Linked DNA regions of Homo sapiens. The protein of the gene in region 4 purifies or fractionates together with the protein of the main gene of each other region. This does not show direct contact. Each region holds a gene or a part of one and is shown on either strand. Other genes may lie near its edges. The genes, in order: SEPTIN7, GMCL1, PDK3, SYT12, MFAP3, ZNF445 and NXPE3.

Region 1 (3,500 bases), on a different chromosome or scaffold from region 4:
GTTTCACTGTGTTAGCCAGGATGGTCTCAATCTGCTGACCTCATGATCCGCCCGTCTTGGCCTCCCAAAGTGCTGGGATTACAGGCGTGAGCCACTGTGCCCTGCCAATTTTTGTATTTTTAGTAGAGACAGGGTTTCTCCACATTGGTCAGGCTGGTCTCGAACTCTCGACCTCAGGTGATCCACCTGCCTTGGCCTCCCAAAGTGATGGGATTACAGGTGTGAGCCACCGCACCTGGTTGCTTTTTAAAAATTTTATTGGGAGGTTTTTTGTTGTTGTTTTGTTTTTTTGAGACGGAGTCTTGCTCTGTCACCCAGGCTAGTGGCATGATCGTGGCTCACTGCAACCTCTGCCTCCTGGGTTCAAGTGATTCTCCTTCCTCAGCCTCCTAAGTAGCTGGGATTACAGGCACATGCCACCACGCCTAGCTAATTTTTGTATTTTTAGTAGAGACGGGGTTTCACCATGTTGGTCAGGCTGGTCTCTCCTGACCTCGTGATCTGCCTGCCTTGGCTTCCTAAAGTGCTGGGATTACAGGTGCAAGCCACCGCACCCAGCCTGGTTTTTTTTGTTGTTGTTTTTTTTAATAGGTAATATAATCACTTGGTTCAAAATTCAAAAGGTTAAACAGAGAGATACAGTGAAATCTCCTTCTTACTTCTACCCCCAAGTCACCCAGTTTCCTAGTCCTCGGCATCCTGTGTTAACAGTTTCTTGTATGTTCTTCCAAAGGTGTTTTTTGCATATGGAAGTTAAAAACATTTATCCTTCCTGCCCCCACCCTTGGTAGCATTAAGACACATTATTTCCCACATGTTTTTTTCCAATGAGTGTAATTTGGGTTATTCCGTATCAGTACATAAAGAGCATTCTTATTCTTTTATACAGCTGCATAACCGTTACATGATATCTCAGTCTGTTTGTGCTGCTCCAACAAAATACCTGAGACTGGGTAATTTATAAGGAACAGAAATCTATTTCTTACCATTCTGGAAGCTAGGAAGTCTAAGATCACAGTGCCAGCAGGTTTGGCGTCTCTGCTTCCAAGATGGCACCTTAAATGCTACTTCCTTTGGAGGGAACAAATGCTGTGCCCTAACATAGTAGAAGGAGCAAAAGGGTCAAGCACCTCCCTTGCACCTCTTTTATAAGGTCATTAATCCTATTAATACCATTACTAGTGATTAAGTATCAACATACAAATTTTGGGAGAACACATTAAGACCATAGCATATGGATAGATCATGATATGGGATATATTTTGATTTGTTTAACATGTCTGCCTCTGATAGACATTAATTTCCAGTGTTTTGCTATTACCAACTTTGACATGGTGAGTCACTTGGGATATTGATCTCTTCACATTTGTTAGTGTATCTAACAAATACACTAACTGTTAGTTTTTGAACTCTTTGAAGCAGGAGACTACCACTTAAAAGTTGTAGTATTGACATTGTCATTATATCAATAATGTATTGATGTTATAGTATCATAACATTGATGTTAAGTATTGGTAATATTGCTGTTAAGTCATTAGTTTAGAACTTCAACAATCAAGTTCATTCACTTAACAAATACACGTTTTGTACTTGCTGTGTGCTGGCCACTGGGGAAACTGAATTAAATGCTGTGGCAGTTGAAATAGAGGCATGGTGATTAAGAGTTTTCGGATCTAGAGTCAGACTTGGATTCATATCTCAGTTCTAAAGCTTAACTGAACCTTTGGCAAATAACAGAACTTCTATTTTTCCTTCTCTGTAATGTGGGAATCATAAGGTTATTGGAGAAGTAAATGAGATAGTACATGACAAATCCTTAGCATGATGCCTGGCATATAATAAACACTGAGATGTTAGCTTAAAAAAAGTTATCAGACTATATTGCAGTTGACTTTATGTTCTGCCTCCACTGTGCTTAAAGTCTAGGCCTGTGTTTTGTTCACCTTTGTGTCCCCAACCCATAACTGGCTTGCATTTAGTAAAAAATTTGTGATACGATATAAAGGTATGCAGAGCATACAGTGAAAGTTCAAAGCAGGATACCTTTTCCATGCTGGAGAAGGTGAATCTTTGAAAGTCGGTAGGAGTGATTAGGTAAAGGAGGTGAAGGAGTAAAGATAATTATTCTAGACTGAGAAATTATGTTAGTATCAGGTTATGAGGTTAGAAGAGGTAAGTAGGCAACTGGTATTGCTGTGCTGAGAATTTAAAAATCTTTATTGAAGGCTTTAAAAGAAAAGTGGTAATCGTAAGAATCGTGATGATAATTCTCTCTGTTGAGAGTTGACAGGGCACCAGGTTGGAGCCATTAAATTGAAGGAGTTTAATGTAGCAGTTTAGGACTAAAAATTGGTCAGAAGCAGGGCAATGGGAAAGGACATGAGGGGGATGGTTGTAAGGTGTTAGGGAAGATGTGGGTGGTGAGTAATGAGTCCAGAATATTTGAGCTTTCTGACTTGAGTGAATGGGTAGATGAATAGATGCTATTTCTTGAAATAGGTAATTTGAAACATGAAATTGAGAGGCCTGGGGGACATCCAAGTGGACATGTCTTGTAGGGTCTCAATACTAGGAAGACATCTAGGATAGAAAATAAACATTTTCTGATAATTGTAAATGTATTCATTTGTGCTTTGAATTTTTATGTTTAGTAAGTGAGTTTGTGAACAGAGTTGAAGGAAATTACAATAAAGTGATTTGTGTGAAACTTCGTTGTCCTTCAAATATAGACTGAGGTCTCCAGTTTCTGGGGTAGTACTAAAATGTTTCCTTTTTTTTTTTTTTTGAGATGGAGTCTTGCTCTGTCACCCAGGCTATAGTGCAGTGGCGCGATCTCAGCTCATTGCCAGCTCCGCCTCCCACGTTAACGCCATTCTTCTGCCTCAGCCTCCCGAGTAGCTGGGACTACAGGCGCCCGCCACCACACCTGGCTAATTTTTTGTGTTTTTAGTAGAGCCTGGGTTTCACCGTGTTAGCCAGGATGGTCTCAATCTCCTGACCTCATGATCCGCCCGCCTTGGCCTCCCAAAGTGCTGGGATTACAGGCGTGAGCCACCGCGCCCAGCCAGATGTTTACTTATTTAAAATTTCAGCTGGTACGTTTCACAGCAGCAGTTGCTTCAGACTCAGGGTTATGCTAGTGTTTCTTTGCAGGAGTGACATTTTGTATCCTTATATATTGTTATTGTCCATTCAGATTGTAATGAGTTAATGAGTTTTTTTTTTTTTGAGACAGAGGCTCGCTCTGTCGCCCAGGCTGGAGTGCAGTGGTGAGACAGAGGCTCACTGCAACCTCCACCTCCCTGGTTCAAGCAATTCCTCTGCCTCAGCCTCCCGAGTAGCTGGGATTACAGGCACATGCCACCACGCCTGGCTAATTTTTTTGTATTTTTAGTAGAGACGGGGTTTCACCATGTTGGCCAGACTGGTATCGAACTCCTGACCTGAGGCAATCTGCCCACCTTGGCCTCCCAAAGTGCTGGGATTACAGGCATGAGCCA
Region 2 (3,500 bases), on a different chromosome or scaffold from region 4:
ATGTTAAACTCACCTGGCTAAACCCCAACTCTTGTCAAGGGTTGCACTCCATGCCTGCATCCAGACAGATGAATGTGATTAAAGACAAACACCGTACCCCATTGGGTTCCACTTGAATGTGGTAACCATGAACTTGAAGTAGGTTAGTGCTGCATCATGATCTGTCTGCATTTTCCTAGTGAATTGATCCTCCCATTAGCTGAGGTAACTCATACCTTCTCTCCTTAAAAGGGCAATGCTCCCACCCTTATTCTTATCTGATGGCCTTGCTGCCTACTGCAATGAAAAGAGAATCTGTACATCATCTTACCAGTAGTTCTGCCAGTCTACCTGCACCTGTAGCTATGCGCTATGCATTTCATCTTATTAGAAAAATGAACTGCCTACTTCTATCTTAGTCCATTCCCTCTCTTTGTACTGGACTCTATCCATGCTCACCTATTCAAAAGCTTTGCTCCAGCCAGGCACAGTGGTATGCACCTGCAATTCCAGCTACTTGGGAGGCTTAGGTGGAAAAATTGCTTGAACCCAGGAGTTAGAGTTCAGCCTGGGCAATATAACGAGACCCTGTCTCTTTAAAAAAAAAAAAGCTTTGCCCTTACAGTTATCACCTCTACTAGGGCAGAAACTGTATGTTATTTACTGCTATGATTCCATTGCTTAGAGGAGTGCCTGGCATATAATATGTGCTCAATAAATATCAGTTAAATACTGAATTGCAATTCAGGGTGTCAGCCAAACACTTGAAGCCCTAACTACTTCTCTGTATCACACTACCTTATCTGATACTCTCACATTAACTATTAGCTGATAGAATAAACAAACTCGTGAACCCCATGATGATATTTAAATAACCCAGTTGTGTGTTACTTGAGTTAGAGTATTTTATTTTTATTTTTATTTTTATTTTTTTTTATTCTTTTTTGTATTTTTAGTAGAGATGGGGTTTCGCCATGTTGGCCAGGCTGTTTTTGAACCTCAGACCTCAGGTGATCCACCCGCCTCGGCCTCCCAAAGTGCTGGGATTACAGGCGTGAGCCACCACACCCAGCCCTTAAGAGTATTTTTAAAGCAAGGTGGATTTTAATGGGCTCTTAATTACCTTAGTGCTCTAGAAACTCTTAGTGCTCTAAGCTATATACCCACTTAGAGTTGCAGTGAAAAGCCTTATTATTGCTGGGTGCAGTGGCTCACGCCTGTAATCCCAGCGCTTTGGGAGGCCGAGGCGTGTGGATCACAAGGTCAGCAGTTCAAGACCAGCCTGGCCAACATAGTGAAACCCCGTCTCTACTCAAAATACAAAAAAAAAAGGCCGGGCACAGTGGCTTACACTTTGTAGTCCCAGCACTTTGGGAGGCCGAGGCGGGCGGATCACCTGAGGTCGGGAGTTCGAGACCAGCCTGACCAACATGGAAAAACCCCGTCTCTACTAAAAATACAAAATTAGCCAGGCTTGGCGCATGCCTGTAATCCCAGCTACTCAGGAGGCTGAGGCAGGAGAATCGCTTGAACCCGGGAGGTGGAGGTTGTGGTGAGCCAAGATCATGCCATTGCACTCCAGCCTGGGCAACTAGAGCAAACCTCTGTCTCAAAAAAAAAAAAAAAAAAATTAGCCGGGCGTGGTGGCAGGGACCTGTAGTCCCAGCTACTTGGGAGGCTGAGGCAGGAGAATCGCTTGAACCCGGGAGGTGGAGGTTGCAGTGAGCCAAGATCATGCCACTGCACTCCAGCCTGAGTGACAGAATGAGACTCTGTCTCAAAAAAAAAAAAAAAAAAAAAAAGCCTTATTATTTATGGTAGAATTGCAGTATGGAGAGATAAGGAAACTGATCATGAAGAGGAAAGTAGCTTAGAGAATTATGATCATTAAGGGCAGCTTTTCTAGCTTAGATAAATAGTTTTGGGTGGTAAGCCTTAAGAAAAAGTCACTGACAAAAAGTCGACCACCCATGAGGGAAATACTTGGAATGAGTTAGAGACAAAAAGACATTTTGAATTTTTTATTTTCTACTTGCTAATATGATAAACTGAAATAAGTCTTCTCTCTTGTATTTTTTAGTACTGCTGGCGTTGGACAGGTTTTAACTTCGGCTTCGACCTACTTGTAACTTACACCAATCGATACATCATTTTCAAACGCAATACACTGAATCAGCCATGTAGCGGATCTGTCAGTTTACAGCCTCGAAGGAGCATAGCATTTAGGTAGGATGAGATTTCCCCACCCCACTCCTCCTCACTCCAGAGAAAATATAAGAAATAAAACCTTGATAATTTACACCAACATTAGTAGAACTTTGGTAAGCTACAGTATATGTGGAAGTGGTAGGAAATGACGAGGCTCCATTCCTGTGAAATCTATTGTTAGTAATCAGAATCATAGGATCTAGTATGTCAGGGAGAATGAATAGGCTGGAATATATACCAGTAGGGAATATCAGCCTTGAAGTCGTTGCCTTGTTGCTATTCCTAGCAAATAAAAGATCCAGACTGTTGAAATATGTAGCAAGGTATGTTTCCAGGAAAACACATATTATCCTTAACTTTTTAAAGGATTTAATATGTTAAATTTTGCCCAGTAGTTGCTGGCAATCTTTTTCTGAGAGGATACCAGAAGCTGACAAATTGGACAGTAGCTTAATGAACATGATTTAAAAGTCATATATTTATACTTACCTTACACCAAATACAAAAATTAACTTAAAATGGATCAAAGATCTAAGCATAAGAACTGCAACTATGAAACTCTTGGAAGAAAACATAGGGGAAAAGCTTCATAACAATTGATTTGGCAGTGATTTCTTCCATAAGACACCCAAGCACAGGCAACAAAAGAAGCAGTAGATAAAATTGGACTTCATCAAAATCACAAACTTGTGTATCAGAGGACAGTGTCAAGACAGTGAAAAGGCAACCCATGGAATGAGAGCAGATATTTGTAACGCTACATTTGATAAGACATTAATACCCAGAATATATAGAAAACTCCTACAACTCTATAATTTAAAAAGAAAACTCAACTCAGCTCAAAAATGGGCCAAAGACTTCCATAAACATTTCTCCAAAGAAGATATATAAATGGCTAATAAACACATGAAAAGATGTTCAACATTACTAATTAGGGACATACAAACCAAAATCACAATGAGCTATCACTTCACACCTATTAGGATAGCTATTAGTAAAAACAGAATAGAAAAAAAACAACAAAAGTAACAGGTGTTGGCAAGGATGTGGAGTATTTAGAACCCTTGTGTACTGCTCGTGGCCATGTAAAATGGCACAGCCACTATGGAGCATGGTATGACACTTCCTCAAAAAAATTAAACAGAATTACCATATGATCCAGCAGTTTCTCTTCTATAGACCAGAAGAATTGAAAATAGGGACTTAAACAGATATTTTTGTATACTTATGTTCATAACAGCATTATTCACAATAGCCAAAAGGTGGAAGCAACCCACATGTTCACTGACAGATGCTAGAGAAACAAAATGTGG
Region 3 (3,500 bases), on a different chromosome or scaffold from region 4:
ATTAGCATTAGAGTGCTGCCCTTTTACTAGTTGAAGGCTTTTTGGCCTGGATTCGTCCTTATTTGACATTGAGATCTAGTTCCCTATTTTCTTGTTTACATTTCCTGGGATAGCATTGCCATCCTTTTATTTTCAGTTTTTCTGAATTACTTCGCTCTAAATATGTCTCTAAATGTAGTGTAAAGTTGGGTTTTGCTTTGTGAATCAGTCTTTTTCATGTGGTAAGTTTAACCTATTTATACTTACTGGTATGATAGATCTGTCATCTGTAATGATAAGCATTTGTAATTTTCTGTTGCTTTCTGTTTTTAATACCTCAGTTTTCCTATGTTATATATTTGCTTTGTTTTGCCATATTTATTTTAATAAATAACTAGGCTTGAATTTTTGGTTCTAGTGGTTATCTTTATAGTTATTACTTTATTTCTATAGACCTTTGTCCCATATGGGTCACCACTTGTCAGCCAGGAGACCTTTGAGCACTTGAAATGTGGCTAGTGTGGCCGAAAAACTGAATTGACTTAATTTAAATTTAAAATGGATACTTGATGCAGTTAATTTTTACATCTGTGTAGAATAACTTGGATATGGAATCCACTTTATCACCTGTAAATTTTAGGAAATCTCTTTATAGGTCAATTATTTCTGATAGAAATTTAGCCTCTGAATTGAGATGTGCTTTCAGTATAAAATACACACTGGATTTCAAAGACTTAATATAAAAATAGTAAAATATCAGTACATCTTATATTGATTGCATGTTGAAATGGTAATATTTTAGATATGTTGGGTTAAATGGAATATTATCAAAAACTTTATTTCTTTTTTATGTTAATGTGGCTACTAGGAAATTTTAAATTATATATATGGCTTACATATTTCTTTCTTTCTTTTTTTTTTTTTTTTTTTTTTTTTTGTGAGACGGAGTTTTTGCTCATGTTGCCCAGGCTGGAGTGCAATGGTGCGATCTGGGCTCACCGCAACCTCCGCCTCCCAGGTTCAAGTGATTCTCCTGCCTCAGCCTCCCAAGTAGCTGGGATTACAGGCATGCGCCTACATGCCCAGCTAATTTTGTATTTTTAGTAGAGATGGGGTTTCTCCATGTTGGTCAGGCTGGTCTTGAACTCTCGACCTCAGGTGATCTGCCCACCTCAGCCTCCCAAAGTGCTAGGATTACAGGCATGAGCCACAGCCCCTGGCCTGGCTCACATATTTATATTGGACAGTGTGGCTTCAGATAATATATGTTAATTCCTTATTGGGAGCAATGAAAACATCACATTTTAATGTTCAGAATAAACATTTATTGGCTGGGTGCAGTGGCTCACGCCTGTAATCCCAGCACTTTGGGAGGCCGAGGTGGGTGGATCACGAGGTCAAGAGATTGAGACCATCCTGGCCAACGTGGTGAAACCCCGTCTCTACTAAAAATACAAAAATTAGCCAGGCATGGTGGTGGGCGCCTATAGTCCCAGGTACTCGGGAGGCTGAGGCAGGAGAATTACTTGAACCTGGGAGGTGGAGGTTGCAGTGGGCCAAGATTGCGCCACTGCACTCCAGCCTGGCTAGAGTGAGACTCCGTCTCAAAAAACAAAACAAACAAACAAACAAAAACAAAAAAACCAACCACACATTTGTTGAATTTATTTATTTATTTATTTACTTATTTGAGACAGAGTCTCACTCTGTCACCTAGGCCAGAGTGCAACGGCTTGGTCTTGGCTCACTGCAACCTCTGCCTCCCGGGTTCAGGTGATTCTCCTGCCTCAGCCTCCCGAGTAGCTGGGATTACAGGTGTCTGCCACCACGCCTGGCTTATTTTTGTATTTTTAGTAGAGACGGGGTTTTGCCCTATTGCCCAGGCTGGTCTCGAACTCCTGACCTTAGGTGATCTACCCGCCTCTGCCTCCCAAAGTGCTGGGATTACAGGCATGAGTCACCGTGCCTGGCCTGAATTTATTTCCTGAAATATAACTTTCACATGTCTTGTTCCATATTTTTTTCTATAAACCTCTCTGGATTTTTGGATCAATGTATTGTTTTTGACTGGCAGTTAATGTTATGGTGGCTCCTTGTTATATTTGCACAAATTTGAGTTCTCTTTCCCTTAAGCAGTTGTGATAAATTAAAAATTCTCTTAATTATATAAGAAAAGGAGAACTTGGACTATTATGGCATAAAGATAGAACCTTCTGAATGTTGAATGAGTTGGTAGGAAATGATTCACATTTTCTTTTGGACTTGCTTTTCATCTTTCAGTCTCGCCCTGTCGGCTTCTGGTTCCCATATTAACCACTTTTCTCCCCTCCCTGCAGACTGACGTCCCATTTGTTTGATTTTCCAGTTACTTTTGCACAGCCACACTTGCATTAAAGAGATTTTGCTCCTGCCTCCTTTTCTTAGATTTTATCCTCAATTGTCTCTTTCCAAAGGGCAGGCGCTCACCTCTTTTTTGTAACCTCTTACAGCTTCCTCAGCTCAGCTTGCTCTGCACAGAGCAGGTGCTCCATAAATGGCAATTACTGATGGCATGCCTGACTCCATATCGAGGTTATTAAACATTATGCCACTTTCATTTAGTCAGTTATATAAGTTTATTTTATTTATTTATTTATTTATTTATTTATTTATTTATTTATTTATTTTGAGACGGAGTCTCACTCTGTCGCCCAGGCTAGAGTGCAGTGGCACCATCTCGGCTCACTGCAACCTCCGCCTCCCAGGTTCAAGCAGTTCTCGTGCCTCAGCCTCCCGAGTACCTGGGACTACAGGCATGCGCCACCACGCCCGGCTAATTTTTGTATTTTTAGCAGAGACGGGGTTTCACCGTCTTGGCCAGGCTGGTCTCGAACTCCTGACTTCAGGTGATCCACCCGCCTCTGCCTCCCAAAGTGTTGGGATTACAGACGTGAGCCACTGTGCCCAGCCAAGTTTAAACTTCCATAGTGTCCCCATGTGTAAATATAGCATCTCTCAAAACCACCAGAAAGCAGATTGCTGATAGCCCTGCCGTCTTTTCACAAAACTAAATATTTTGATTTCTGTCATAATCACACCGGCTCTGTGAACCTCAGAGCCTTTAGCTCTTAGAAGGTAGCGGCCAGTTTCCGCATTCTTACTATTCTTAAAGTTTAAGGGCCCAGCCATCTTCTTTTCCTTTAGAACATATTTTAAGATACTTTGGAGATACTTTGGTTCCAAATGACTCCCTTTCGCAAAGTCTTGGCTTTTTAAGTCATTTTGCTCCTTGAAGCCTGATCACCACTGGGGACAACAGTGATTGCGTTCTTGGAGAAAATGGAAAGGTTTTTAAAAAAATTATGTTAGGAAAAGGGAAAAACAATCTCATTCTGCTTCCGAGTGTGTTTATTTTGTACCTTTACATATGTAAATGACAGATTTTTTTTTTTTTTCCCTGTAAGCAGTAGTTTTTCTGCTACAAGGTGTCACCAAGAATTAGACCAACCTGTTTGGAGAAAGGGATCAACTATTCAGAATTA
Region 4 (3,500 bases):
GATCCACCAGCCTTGGTCTCCCAAAGTGCTGAGATTACAGGTGTGAGCCACAGCGCCTGGCCAAATTTCAAATACGTTTTTAATATGTGTGTCCCAAATATTCCACAGGACATATTTACGCCAAAATCTTTTCCATTGTTCATCCAAAACATCAATGCTCCTGGGTGTCCTGTTTTTGTATTTGCCAAATCTGGCAACCCCAGCTCATTTCCATCCTAACAACATCAGGCTGACCAGCGGCGACGCAGTAGGTGACTCATTAGAGCAAGGCCCCCCTGGCTTGAGCCAGAGCCTTCCTTCAAATGCTTCCATTTTGATTGGGAAGGAAAGGCTGCGTGTCTGCAATATTCTATTATCAGTCCTTTCACTGCTTGGCATGGTTTCTTCCCCACCCCATCCTCCACCCCCAGCTTTTAGGAATGACTGAGGCTTAAGTTGTTCTAGAAAGGTCTGGGAGCTCGTACAACCCATTACCTGAACCTAGGTGACTGCTCATTGTTTTATTAGTGTGCTAAGAAGTAAATCTGGCTCACAGATGTGTTCTAAGTGGGTGTATGTGGGAGTCCTGGAAAAAGGAATTTGGGATGGGCTGCACTGATCTCAGGTCAAGGGCACCGAGGGCCAGGATAATGCCCACCCCAATTTCTGGATTCCCTTGTAGTTCAGAGAGGTGGTTACACATGGTAAGCCTGCAGGCCTGGTGCAGGGTGGTAGGGCAAGGGGAAGGGGAGGTAAGAACTGCAGAGTGATGGCCTGGCCCAAGGGCAGCTGCATTTTTGCCCCAGCAGGAATGCCAACCACCGTGGCTTGATCTTCTGGCACTTTAAAGAAAAGCCAGATACCTGAATTTTTTATGTGCCATTTCCTGAGTTTTAAAGGTAGCAACCAATTTGCAAAAAAATGCAAACACCATTCAGACGCAGTATAAAAAGTCCTTGGGGAGTGTGACCCACCAATTCCCAACCCCTCGGAGCATCCTGTAGGTTCCCTTTGGGACTGGGGTCGAATCAGAGGGTAAAGCTAAGGCCCTCCACATTTTCAGGAATTCCGGGGTTCTCCCCAGTCTGTGGCTTTGGAGTCAAGAAGCTTCGGTGCCATGCTCCAGTCAGGGTTATCCAGCACATTTGGGGTGCCATAAGTCCTAGTCTACCCCCTTAAGTCCTGGAGGTGCCCAGGAGCCTCTAGAAGCAGGTCAGATAAGGTGCACAGCCAGCTCCTGGCTTCCAGTTCTCCTGATGCTGCCCCCACTCCCACAAGGAGATGTGCGTTGTCATGGTGATGGAAGGGTGGTGCTAAGCCAGGAAGGGCTTCACCCATCCTGACTAGAGTGGAAGCTCATTCCTGGGCCTGGGCTGGAGATAATGATAGTAATAGAGAACCTTGTCGAGCCCTTCTTACACATCAAGCGCCATTCTAAGCACTTTGCATTTATCTGACCTCATTTAATTTGCCTAACAGCCCCATGAGGTAGGTACTATTATTATCTCTGGTTTGCGGGTGAGAGTCCCAGGGCGTAATTTGCCCCAGGCCACACAGCTAATAAACTGTTCAACCCAGGCCAACTGGCTCCATGCTCCTAACCACTGTGTCTCACTGCAAGTGGGCATATGGTTTCCAAAAAGTTTCCTAAGAATCTGCAGGTCAAATGGGTCACCATGTACCTGCCCAAGGTGGTCCTAGCTCCTGGCGGAAGCTGGTCTGGATACGCTGAAACACATGCTAATGTACACACACGCACCTCCCAGCCTGCTTCTGCCTTGCCGGGAATCAGATAAGCCATCGGCTTTTTCCTGCTTACCTGGCACAAGCTGACTTTGCAAGAGTGGGGCCAAGCTGGGACAGCCAATGCCCGCAGCACGCGAGCAAGGTATGCATGGCAAAGTACACCCCACAGCACAACAGGCGTGGTACGGGACAAAGCCTCAAGCTGCATCTGGCCTCTGGCTGTCGGGGGCCCCATCACCTCCATGGCTGGCCCAGCTCAGACCCCAGACTCCCACGCTGTCTGTTCTTTCCTCTCCCTTTAACACGACATCCTTTCCCAGGGAGCTGAGATTTCAGTGAGGGTGTGAATGACTGCTAGGCACACCCCAGACAGAAGTTCCTTCTTTTTTTTTTTTTTTTTTTTTTTTTTGAGACAGAGCCTCACTGTGTCACCCAGGCTTGAATGCAATGGCGCGATCTCAGCTCACTGCAACCTCTGCCTCCTGGGTTCAAGTGATTCTCCTGCCTCAGCCTCCCAAGTAGCTGGGATTACAGGCATGAGCCACCATGCCCAGCTAGTTTTTGTATTTTCAGTAGAGACGGGGTTTCATCATGTTGGCCAGGATGGTCTTGAACTCCTGACCTCAATGATCCTCCCATCTTGGCCTCCCAAAGTGCTAGGATTACAGGCGTGAGCCACCGCCCCTGGCCTCCAGACATATGTTCCAGCCTGGTGCCCTGTGAAGGCAGAGCTCATTTGCCTGAGTGGAGGGAGAAGAGAACTGGGAGAGAGGTCGAGGCTCCTAGAGGGTGTCATCCTGAGCACAGGGTTTGTAGTCAGCTGCACCCAGCTCTGACTCCCATACCTGCCCCTGGCTAGCTGCAGTGGCCTTGGGTAATTTTCTTAGTCTCTTAGAGCCTCAGTTCCCCACCTGTAAAGCAGATGTGAGGCTGCCAGGAGGGTGGAATGAGAAGGTACGTGTAGTCAGGCTTGGCACATATTGGTTGCTGTGGTTAGCAGCCTGGTGATGGCCCATACAGACCCCCTAACCCCTAGTCTGGGCAGTGTGGGCAGCACTGCCAGCCTACAGATGTGTTTATTTGTCTTACATTTAAGTGAGTTGCCAACATTTTAAAATTGAAAAATTTAGCTGGGTGCAGTGGGTCATGCCTGTAGTCCCAGCTACTGGGGAGGCTGGTGTGGGAGGATCTCTTGAGCCCAGGAGTTCAAAACCAGTCTGGACAACATAGTGAGACTGTGCCTCAAAAAAAAAGTGTGTGTGTGTGCGGGGAGAGTTTCCCATTAAAAATTGATTTAAAAAGGATTTCCAGCTTCCCTTTGAAAATTAGAAGATCTGGCCGGGCGCGGTGGCTCAGGCCTGTAATCCCAGCACTTTGGGAGGCCGAGGCAGGCGGATCACCTGAGTTCGGGAGTTTGAGACCAGCCTGACCCACACGGAGAAACCCCATCTCTGCTAAAAATACAAAATTAGCCGGGCTTGGTGGCACATGCCTGTAATCCCAGCTACTTGGGAAGGCTGAGGCAGAAGAATCGCTTGAACCTAGGAGGTGGAGGTTGCAGTGAGCCAAGATCGCACCACTGCACTCCAGCCTGGGCAACAAGAGCAAAACTCCATCTCAAAAAAAAAGAAAGAAAAGAAAAAAAGAAAGTTAGAAGATATGGGGACAATGGGTTTGCATCCCCCGACTCCAACAGGAGTTGGAGCTAAGTCGGCATTGCCCCTTCCCTGGCTGCTCCCATCCTTCCATTCACTGCTAGAACCTGTTGAGCCCTG
Region 5 (3,500 bases), on a different chromosome or scaffold from region 4:
TCCCCCCAACCCCCAAGATTTTTAAATGGTTGCATGGTATTCTGAGTGTTTTATAATGATGTAACTATCAAATGTAAATTTTAGTTCAATATCTGAAAGAACCATGAACAATAATAATAGAGCTTATTCAGTGATTACCATTGCCAGACTCTGTGTTTTATGTATACTACCTCATTCAGACTTTGCAATAATCCTGTGAGAATAGATTCTGTTATTTTGCCCATTTTAAAGATGAGGGGCTGAGGCAGGGAGATTAAGTCATTTATAAAAGTTGCAAGGCTGGTTAGAGTCACAGATCGTATTTGAATCCTATACTCTGAACCTCTCTGCTACCCTGCTCTTATTAGAGACCTTCAATTTTGCTGATCTAGAGTAATCTAAATCTAGAATGGAATGTGAGTGATTATATCTCTCATTGGAAATATTCAAATAGCCTGAAGCACCATTCTGCAGGTCAGTTGCAGAGGAAATTGAGGAACTGTATTAGTGGCCCTTAGATGCAGTACATGAATCCAATGCCTCAGAAACACCCAGGGAGCCAATTAAAAGTCATAAATTCCAAGGCGCAAACACAGAGTTTCTTACTCGTTCTGGGTTGGGACCTGGGAATCCATATTTTTAAAAAGCTCTCCTGACAGTTGTGATATTCAACCTGGTTTGGAAACTGCACTTGGTGATCTTTTATTCCTACCATTATCCTCTAGGACAACATGGTAAATGAAGGTATCAGGTTGGGAGTCGGAAGAATGCATTTAATTAGGTACTTTTAAGGTCTTCCAAGATTGTTAGCATTGACTGTTTTTGTTTCAGAGAATTTATAATAGGCAACTGTATGTCAGTTTGAACAATTATAATCCCTGTTGCATAACATTATTCAATTTATAAAGATCTGTCACATACTGAATCAAATTTAAACTAATCTCCATCAATATTTATTGAGCATGTGCTAGTTATGACGTACAGCAATAAAAAATATAGGCCTTGTTCTTAAGGGGTAGTTGAGATGGGATAGACTGCCTAGCAGTACAGAGCAGCATATACCAGCGCCAGATGAGTACGGTAGGTGGGGAGGGCTCTGGGGTGAAGGAGAAGCCATCCTTTATACAGCTATACTCTGAATTTATGTAGGAGGAATAGCTAAGGCCTTGATAGGAGGTTCAGGAAGTTTGCGGGAAGGCAGAATTCCATGTGGGAGTTATGCTTTGCCAAGCCTTGTGTTGGTGAGGACACTCATTGCCCTGCAGCCCTCGCCTGTGACAGCTGTTCATTCTGCTGAAGTTCCTGAATCTCAGAGCAGGAAGACCGAATCCATTTCCTTTCTTTCCAGTTTCTTCTACACTAGCTACTTTGATCCTGGGGGGATGTGACCATACCCCCAGGTGATCTGCCCACGTTTGAGCCTCTCAGTTGTTTGACGTCTTCATCATGGACGAATATCTCCCTCACTCACTTCAGCCACTGCAGCTTCCGGAGTCTATCTCCAGTTTCACCATTGGCCCAGTTAGTTCTCCTCCAGAATCAGGAATCAGACGCAGCATTTTTGGCCACTGCCTGTCTTTACCACAATTTTTTAGCTGTTTTTTGTGAACAACTCCTGACCAGTGACCCCTCTCATTTTTCCCTGTCTCCTGGCCCTCTACCTTGAGTGCTTTCCTCCCAATTTTTATTCCTCTTTATTCTTCAGGTCCTGCACCTGAAGAATAGGTGCTGCACACCTCTTTTTCTCAGAGGCTTTCCATGATGAGATTAACTCCCCATGTTGGGTCCTCCTGTAGCATCTGTATTTTCCCTTGGGTAACATTGAGTTTATTTTGTATATATGTAGTTAGTGTCCATCATCTGCCAGACTGAACTTCGTGGAGGCCGAGACAATGTCTATGGGGCAGTAGGTAGGCACATGGTAGGTGCTCAATAGATACTGTTCAGTATATGAAAATGTATCCCTCCGATCTCAAACTCAGTGGTGGGGAAGAGTAGAAAGGAAGGAGATGGCAGGTTAAGAAATGAGGTGGCATTAAAATAAACTGGAGTTGTGGGGGGCTTTTTGTTTTGGTTTTGGTTTTACTACAGAGAGAGCAAGCCTCCAGCTCAAAGCCTTTCAGCAGGCAGTAGTATCTCTGGAAGCTAATAACACTTCTTTGTTTTCATTATGTTTATGTGTACGGTTACATTTGTCCACAGAACTGATGTAGAGTTTCCTTTTTAAATAAATGTGAAAGTAAAAATAAAATGAGTTGATTTAAAAGAAAAGCAGAAATGACGATAATTTGGTTCATGGATATAGTAAAAACAACAACAACAAAAAAGACAGGAGAAGGAATGAATGAAGTTTGGGAAGTGCTGCCCTGGATGAAGCTATAGGAACTCCTAATCAAAGTTCTGGAGAAAGCCTGGAGCATTTTTTCAGCACACTCATAGCCTGTCACCGTTGAGAACCACTAATCTAGAATAAAGTACAAAATTATGTCCTCCAATTGCTGTATATCTTGCAGTGAAAAAGAGCTTGGAAACTTACATGTCAAGCCCCTAGCACAGTGCTTGGCTGATGGCAGTCATTCAATAAATGTTATTTCCATTGTTTCTACCCATCACCCCCTCTTAAAAAAGAGACTGTATTCCAAACTAGATTCTCCTACTAACTTGTAGCATGTCGTAAGAAGCAAATCACTGTGCACTGAATCAATTAGATTATATTACTTCCAAAATCCCCTCTCTGCCTAAGTCTTTGTTTCCTTTAGTGTCCTTTTTGTGCGGTTTTAGGAGGAAATGGAAATAAACACGTTTAGTGTGTCATGTATTGCCAAAGTCTGAAGGTTTTTTATTTTACTCTGTATACCCCATCCTTAAATTGTAAAGATTTAGAAAAGTATTTGTCACCATTCAACCATCCTTTCAAGGGTTAATTAATGAAAATTAAATGACATTTGCACCGTATTGTAATTTAGACTTTGAGATATTTAATGGCAAAATACAGTGATTCATTGTTTTTTATGTTCTGTGATCAAGCAGCCTTCATATAAATATAAAGGAGAGTAAATGTCATTTCCAAAACTAATTATCTTGGTGCTTTATAAGACATAAAGCTAGGCATTTCATCCCATATTTTATAGAAATAAAAGTTGAATTTTTTCTTTGAGAGTTGGTGGCTTAAAGGGGGAGTCAAATTACCAGGAAGGTGATCATAAATACATAGACTTTTGGACTAGGATGTTATTTTGCCTTTTATTCAAGATATTTTGCTCTTCTTTTAAATGTGTCTAACAATCTGTCCCTGTAGTTTTATATTTGCATTTCTACTAACTAGACACTTAAGATGTCAGTTCCTCCCTTAGCTAGTTTACAGAGTTTGAGCTAGAAATTTGGTATGCTTACAAACTATTAAATACACTGTACTTTGTCTCTTCGTATTGGAGAAACTATTAAAAGAAAATTCTGTTGTCTAATGTTCTTGCCCATGAAGGAGGTTCCATAGCTTTAGAAGTCAATAACTCTATTTATGT
Region 6 (3,500 bases), on a different chromosome or scaffold from region 4:
GAGCCCGAAATATACTCCAGATAGTCCCTTTTTTGAGATGGAGTCTCGCTCTGTTACCCAGGCTGGAGTGTAGAGTGCAGTGCCACGATCTTGTCTCACTGCAAACCTCTGCTTCCCAGGCGCAAGCAATTCTTGTGCCTCAGCCTCCCGAGTAGCTGGGATTATAGGCACATGCCACCATGCCCAGCTAATTTTTTGTATTTTTTGTAGACCTGGAGTTTTGCCATGTTGGCCAGGCTGTTCTCAAACTCCTGACCTCAAGCAGTCCGCCCACTTCGGCCTCCCAAAGTATTACCTCCTGAAAGTGACTTGAACCCTTGGACACCACATTTTATGATGAATTATAAAAAGAAATACAAGAGTTGAGTGGGAAGCTGGATTAGTAGTTTTCAAATTATAATTTGTAACCCATTGTTGGGTCGTAAAATCAACTAGGGGATTGGATTCTCAGGATTTTTTTGTTTTTGTTTTTGAATTGCTCATTTGAGATATTTTAAAATATTATAATAGCAAAATCACATTTGATATTTAAAAAGTCAGTTGGGCATTCTTGTGTGGTTCTGTTTCTGGTTTTTCTATTTTATTCCATTGACCTATGTGTCTCTTCCTCCACCAGTACTACACAGAATTGATTAATATAGCTATAAGTCTTGAAATCAGGTAGACTGTTTTCAGACTGATCCCTCCCAATTTATTCTTCCTTGTCATAATTGTTTTTTGGTTTTGTTTGTTTGCTTGCTTGCTTGCTTGTTTTGAGACAGACCCTTGCTCTGTTGCCCAGGCTGGAGTGCAGTGGCACGATCTTGGTTCACTGCAACCTCTGCCTCCCGGGTTCAAGTGATTCTTGTGCCTCAGCTTCCTGAGTAGCTGGGATTACAGGCACGCACCACCATGCCTGGCTCATTTTTTGTACTTTTAGTAGAGACGGGGTCTTGCCATGTTGCCCAGGCTGGTCTCGAACTCCTGAGCTCAGGCAATCCTCCCACCTCCGCTTTCCAAAGTGCTAGGATTACAGGTGTGAGCCACCATGCCTGACCTGTCATAATTTTAGCTATTCTAATCCCATTGCCTTTCCACATAAATTTATCTATGTCTACAAAAAATCTTGTTGAGATTTTGGTAGGATTTGCATTAGACCTGTAGATAAATGTGGAGAGAATTTACATCTTTACTGTGTCACATCTTCCAGTACATGCATACGGTATGTCTGTTCATTTATTTAGATCTTCTCTGACTTTTTTCATCATCCCTTTGTGTTTTTTACGAAGTTTTAATGTATAAGTTCAGTATATGTTTTATTGTGGGGTATTTTCTTAGCTTACTCCAATAGGGGACAGCCTAGCTCTGGTCTACTTGATACTGGCATATACCTTTGTGCAAACGCTCTTCTTATATATACAAAGATGATCCCAACCAGCAGAATCCAACTGCACCATGTATAATGGACATTATTCTCTCATCCCCTCCTGCACAGAAATGCTGGTAATTTCAGTCACTTGCTGATGACTTCTGATGTCCCAGCAAATGTTGGCATTGTTGACTGCTGAGAAGATACTTCTGAGGACCCACGTCTAAGGTGGACTTGGTTCGCACTCTTCTGGTTAGTCCCTGAACAGGAGTGATGCCTCCAGGCAGGTGGCATGCTGCCTATCCAGCTCAGGCCCAGTCTTCGAGGGAGCGAGGGCGGCTTCAGACAGTAAAGAAGGAAGAAGAGGATGAAAGCTATACTCCAGTGCAGGCTGCCAGGCCACAGACTCTCAACCGCCCTGGCCAGGAGCTGTTCCGCCAGCTCTTCAGACAGCTTCGCTACCATGAGTCTTCAGGGCCCCTAGAAACTCTGAGCCGGCTCCGGGAACTCTGTCGCTGGTGGCTGAGGCCTGACGTTCTCTCCAAGGCACAGATCCTAGAGCTGCTGGTGCTGGAACAGTTCCTGAGCATCCTGCCTGGGGAGCTCCGGGTTTGGGTGCAGCTTCATAACCCTGAGAGTGGCGAGGAGGCTGTGGCCTTGCTGGAGGAGCTGCAGAGGGACCTTGATGGGACATCCTGGAGGGTGAGTGTGAGCAAGTGTGTGGTGCCCAGGGAACTCTGCCTGCTAGTGAGCCAGCTTGTCTGGGGATGGGGGTGGCCCTCTAAACTGTCAATATAGAGGAGTGCAGGGGAAGCCTTCCTTTCTTCCCATGGTACCTGAGCAGCTGAGAACGGGACCCTGAGCCACGGACCCTTTAGCAGGTATCCTTTCCTACCTTCCCAGAGGAATATCAGCTCCAGATAGGGTCAGCAAGTCTCCATAAATAACAGCAACTTCTGGGCACAGTGGCTCACACATGTAATCCCAGCACTTTAGGAGGCTGAGGTGGGAGGATTGCTTGAGGCCAGGAGTTCAAGCCAGCCTGGACAACATAGGAGGACCCCCCCACACTGTCTCTATACATAATTTAAAAATTAGGCCAGGCATAGTGGCTCACACCTGTAATCTAAGCACTTTAGAGTCCAAGGTGGGCGGATTGCTTGAGTGCAGGAATTCGTGACCAGCCTGGGCAACATGGCAAAACCCTGTTTCTACAAAAATTAGCTGAATGTGGTAGCATGTGACTGTAGTCCCAGCTACTTGGGGGACTGAGGTGGGAGGATCACTTGAACCCAGGTTAGGTCAAGGCTGCAGTGAGCCGTGATTGCACCACTGCGCTCCAGCCTGGGTGACACAGCAAGACCCTATCTCTAAACAAAAAAGCCCAGTAACTAGTCTTTGGACACAGTGGCTTACAGTATACAAAGTCCATCTCCACATATTATCTAATTTGACTTGAGACTAACCATAGCCCTGTAAAGTGGTGGGTGTTGGGACAGCATTTAGGGTTAGGGCTCTTGGCTTCTCAGTGGGAGAGTACATGTTAAAACTCAGAAGAGCGCTCTGCAGGCACCATGTAGCTTCCTTCTCAGTAAGCTTTTTTTTTTCTTTTCTTTTCTTTTTTTTTTTGAGGCATACCCCACCACTCCCAGCTAATTTTGTTTGTATTTTTAGTAGAGATGAGGTTTTACCATTTTGGCCAGGCTGGTCTCAAACTCCTGACCTCAGGTGATCCATCCGCCTTGGCCTCCCAAAATGCTGGGATTACAGGTATGAACCACTGTGCCCAGCCCTTCTCACTAAGCTTTTGAGGACCTTTTCTATGTGTGTGAGATGGGAGGCAGGGAAGATGGTCATGAGTGCTGAGGGGCAGAGCTGGGCTGAGAAATAGGAAGACCTCGATTTTAGACTTCATTCCACAACCTCAACATCTGTGGCCACATAGTTGTACCTTTCAGAGCCTCTGTTCGTTGAGAAGAAAATGCAGAAATGGTTTAATCGTGAGAATTTGTTCGGTAAATATTCAAGTGCTTATCATGTGCCTGGCCCTGGCAGAGTTGGCAGTCCCAGGCCTGGCAGGAGAGCAGCAGCTGGTCAGTTCAAGTGCGTTCGTTCTTCCTGCCCTTCTCCTGCACACAGGGGAGCTGATGCT
Region 7 (3,500 bases), on a different chromosome or scaffold from region 4:
TATCTTTTGTGGGAGCATGGATGGAGCTGGAGGCTATTATCTTTAGCAAACTAACACAGGAACAGAAAACCAAATATTGCATGTTCTCACTTATAAGCGGGAGCTAAATGATAAGAACTTATGAACACACAGAAGGAAACAGTAGACACTGGGGTCTACTTGAGTGGGGGAGTTGGGAGGAAGGAGAGGAGCAGACAAGGTAACTATTGGGTACTGGGCTTAAAACCTGGGTGATGAAATAATATGTGACACATTTTCCTATGTAACAAACCTTTACGTGCACTCCCAAACCTAAAATAAAAGTAAAAAAACCCAAACTTTTTAGACATAGATAAAAAAGATTGCAATGATCAGTGCAAATAGCAACATTTCTTGGCCTAATAATTAGAGAAAAATGGGTTATTTTGTTTTTCAGGCATAGACAGGTGTAGTGTAGAGTCTATCACTGATGGTGTTATTTATAATGAATGTTATGTTTATGTAATAATTTAAATAATAAACATGTTAGAATAAAGGCCCATTGATACAAAAGGGGGCAGAGTTCAGTGAAATAGGTATTCCCTTTACATTTATATTGTACCTTTTTGTTGTACTTAAAAAAAAATTGTTATTTGAAGCCACTTAATAAGGTATAATCAAAATATATGTGCTTGGTTTGAAGGTTTTTATGAACTTGAGTTTTCCTTGTTTCAGATTTAGTGGAGTTTAACTTGGGTAGTCCCAAGAATGTGGGTCCCTTCCTTGCAGTGGACCAGAAGCACAACATCCTGCTCAAATACCGCTGCCATGGTCCACCCATCCGCTTCACGACTGTCTTTAGCAATGAGCTCCATTATGTGGCGAATGAGCTGAATGGCATTGTGGGAGGGAAGAACACAGTGGTTGCCATAGCTGTATGGTCTCACTTCAGCACCTTCCCTTTGGAAGTGTACATCCGGCGGCTCAGGAACATCCGTCGAGCAGTGGTTCGGCTCCTCGATCGAAGCCCAAAGACCGTGGTGGTCATCCGGACGGCCAACGCCCAAGAGCTGGGACCTGAGGTGAGCCTTTTCAACAGCGACTGGTACAACTTTCAGCTGGACACCATCCTTCGGAGGATGTTCTCAGGGGTTGGAGTATATCTCGTCGATGCCTGGGAGATGACCCTGGCCCATTATCTACCGCACAAGCTGCATCCAGATGAAGTTATTGTGAAGAACCAGCTGGACATGTTCTTGTCCTTTGTGTGCCCCTTGGAAACCTAGCCTGTCTTGGAAGGGACTGGAGGAATCATATTCAATGACCTTCTCAATTGACCTGAGTTACAGAAAGTGGCCCCAGTGAGAGATGACTGCCCTTAATAAGTATAAAATTTCAAAAAGATCTGGACTTAATATGATGACTTATAAGGAGCTTAGAAAATGCAGGTTACATTTATATCTACCTATAGGATTTTATCCAATGTTGACTTAGCCATGGTAGAACTCTTAACTGCATCTACACACTATATTGCTCTTGTAACCAAAGATGCTAATGAGTGTATTTGAATTAGCTTCTCCTAGGAGGGGTGACTACTTTGCTAAAGAGTATGAAAAATGTTTTGATGGAAGGGACAAGTTTGGTTGGTAGTAGAGTGTTTGTAGCTTATCTGGTAAAGGAAATTGAGTGCATCTGCATGCATAGCACAAGTAATCCATCTTCTGGCGGTTAACTAGAGAAAGCTTATAGTCAGAGGCTCTTGTGAATGCACTGAAGACTGCTGTGTCTCAGGAGTTTCTCTTGATGATCTACCTTTTCTGAATTACTTGAAAAGGCCAATGTGCTTGGTTCGAGTTTTTTAGTGAATATTTACAATTTCCTGCTTTTATCTAGAAAAGAAGCAAAAGGGAAATATGAAAGCAGTATATATAAAATCTGTGCTTTGGAATTGATATTTGCATTTGGTGATTGTTTTTTATTTGATTCAGCTAAATTTTATGTGTTGAATACTTACTCTAGAATAACTACTTTTGGAACTGGAAGGGGGAAATCTGTAAATGGAAATTTATTTTTATGTTCTGAAATTTGAGGGTTTAGGAATTGACTTTTGTGTAAAGAATGCTACGATATTATAAAGCTGTGGAAGTTTTTTCCACTAGTTTCAGGTGTTTTTTTTTTTGTTGTTGTTGTTGTTATTTTGAACTACTTACCAAAATTAGAAGTTAAAATCTAATTAGAAATTAATAAGATACTAAAATTCATGACAGTTTTTTGTTTGTTTGTTTGTTTGTTTTTTGGTATTTCTTGATTTGGGCATAAAAGGCACACCCATTCTCTCATGCTTGGAAGAAGCTGCTATTCCTACTGGCTATCTAAGAAGAATGGAATTATTAATTTTATTTGACTTATTAATTTTAAACGAGTTTAATTTGGGATCATTTAGTAAGTACTCTTTTCTTTTTGAGCTGTGATAGATTATAGTCTAGTTTAAGTTGCTCCTAAGTAGACAGATGAAGAAACTAGGGAGGCTTTAGAGAGGAAGACAGATGCTTGAAGTATGAACAATATATACCCTTAGAAGAATGGGTCAAATAATTTGGGTTTTTAATTTAAAATAGGAGGGCCCCAGATCTTACTTTCCTGTCCTTGAGGAACACCTTCAAGTTTTTAAAGTATTTTAGGGGGAAAGAAGATTTTTAATTGTTTCTGAGCCTAATGAGGTAATAAAATATATTAAAATAGTTTAATTTTAATGGTCCTTACGCTTTACAGTACCTAAGGATCACTTGTAGTATCTGACAAAAATGCAGAATTAAAGAGTCATGGCAGGGTGTGGTAGCTCAAGCCTGTAATCCCAGCACTTTGGGAGGCCAGGCAGGAGGATTGCTTGAGGCCAGGAGTTTGAGACCAGCCTGGGCAACATAGTAAGACCTCATCTCTACAAAAAATAAAAAATTATCCAGGTGTGGGCCGACAGTCCCAGCTACTAGGGAGGCTAAGGCAGGGTGATTGATTGAGCCCAGTAGTTTGAGGCTGCAGTGAGTTATGATTGCGCCACTACACTCCCACTTGGGCAACAGACAAGAGATCTTATCTCTAAAAAATTTTTGTTAAATAATAAAAGAATTAAGGCCAGGGATGTTGGCTCACATCTGTAATCCCAGCAGGGATTATAGTCTCGGGAGGCTGAGGTGGGCGGATTGCTTGAGCCCGGAAGGTCAAGACCAGCCTGGGTGCCATGGTGAAACCCCATCTCTACAAAAAAATACAAAAACTAGCTGGGTGTGGTGGCACCACCTGTAGTCCCCGCTACTTAGGAGGCTGAGGTGGGAGGATTGCTTGAGCCCAGGAGGCAGAAGGTTGCAGAGGTTGCAGTGAGCCTTGATTGTGCCACTGTACTCCAGTCTGGGCAACAGGGCAAGACCCTGTCTCTAAAAAAAAAAAAAAAAAAAAAAGAGGGACCATGATGCCTCTGGGATTTATGAAACCAACCTTTGTGGCGAGTGCTCAGTGATTCTGATGCAATGGTGGTATTCCACACT

The links.
Region 1: the proteins of SYT12 (region 4) and SEPTIN7 purify together in Homo sapiens (co-immunoprecipitation; one large-scale study listed by IntAct). This does not show direct contact.
Region 2: the proteins of SYT12 (region 4) and GMCL1 purify together in Homo sapiens (affinity purification with mass spectrometry; 2 studies listed by BioGRID and IntAct, with this or other methods). This does not show direct contact.
Region 3: the proteins of SYT12 (region 4) and PDK3 purify together in Homo sapiens (co-immunoprecipitation; 3 studies listed by BioGRID and IntAct, with this or other methods). This does not show direct contact.
Region 5: the proteins of SYT12 (region 4) and MFAP3 purify together in Homo sapiens (affinity purification with mass spectrometry; 2 studies listed by BioGRID and IntAct, with this or other methods). This does not show direct contact.
Region 6: the proteins of SYT12 (region 4) and ZNF445 purify together in Homo sapiens (affinity purification with mass spectrometry; 2 studies listed by BioGRID and IntAct, with this or other methods). This does not show direct contact.
Region 7: the proteins of SYT12 (region 4) and NXPE3 purify together in Homo sapiens (affinity purification with mass spectrometry; 2 studies listed by BioGRID and IntAct, with this or other methods). This does not show direct contact.

What each region holds. Positions count from the first base shown.
Region 1 is NC_000007.14:35,807,557-35,811,056, forward strand, and holds part of SEPTIN7 (septin-7), read left to right. Parts: intron 1-3,500.
Region 2 is NC_000002.12:69,867,660-69,871,159, forward strand, and holds part of GMCL1 (germ cell-less protein-like 1), read left to right. Parts: intron 1-39; exon of another isoform or gene 40-142; intron 143-2,059; coding exon 2,060-2,205; intron 2,206-3,500. UniProt on the Homo sapiens protein: Possible function in spermatogenesis. Enhances the degradation of MDM2 and increases the amount of p53 probably by modulating the nucleocytoplasmic transport.
Region 3 is NC_000023.11:24,471,786-24,475,285, forward strand, and holds part of PDK3 (pyruvate dehydrogenase kinase, isozyme 3 isoform 2 precursor), read left to right. Parts: intron 1-3,500. UniProt on the Homo sapiens protein: Inhibits pyruvate dehydrogenase activity by phosphorylation of the E1 subunit PDHA1, and thereby regulates glucose metabolism and aerobic respiration. Can also phosphorylate PDHA2.
Region 4 is NC_000011.10:67,026,134-67,029,633, reverse strand, and holds part of SYT12 (synaptotagmin-12), read right to left. Parts: intron 2,118-3,500; exon of another isoform or gene 1-2,117. UniProt on the Homo sapiens protein: Synaptic vesicle phosphoprotein that enhances spontaneous neurotransmitter release but does not effect induced neurotransmitter release. Unlike other synaptotagmins, it does not bind Ca(2+) or phospholipids.
Region 5 is NC_000005.10:154,045,467-154,048,966, forward strand, and holds part of MFAP3 (microfibril-associated glycoprotein 3 isoform 1 precursor), read left to right. Parts: intron 1-3,500. UniProt on the Homo sapiens protein: Component of the elastin-associated microfibrils.
Region 6 is NC_000003.12:44,453,671-44,457,170, reverse strand, and holds part of ZNF445 (zinc finger protein 445), read left to right. Parts: intron 1-1,474; 5' UTR 1,475-1,621; coding exon 1,622-2,050; intron 2,051-3,500. UniProt on the Homo sapiens protein: Transcription regulator required to maintain maternal and paternal gene imprinting, a process by which gene expression is restricted in a parent of origin-specific manner by epigenetic modification of genomic DNA and chromatin, including DNA methylation.
Region 7 is NC_000003.12:101,820,711-101,824,210, forward strand, and holds part of NXPE3 (NXPE family member 3 isoform 1 precursor), read left to right. Parts: intron 1-693; coding exon 694-1,244; 3' UTR 1,245-3,500.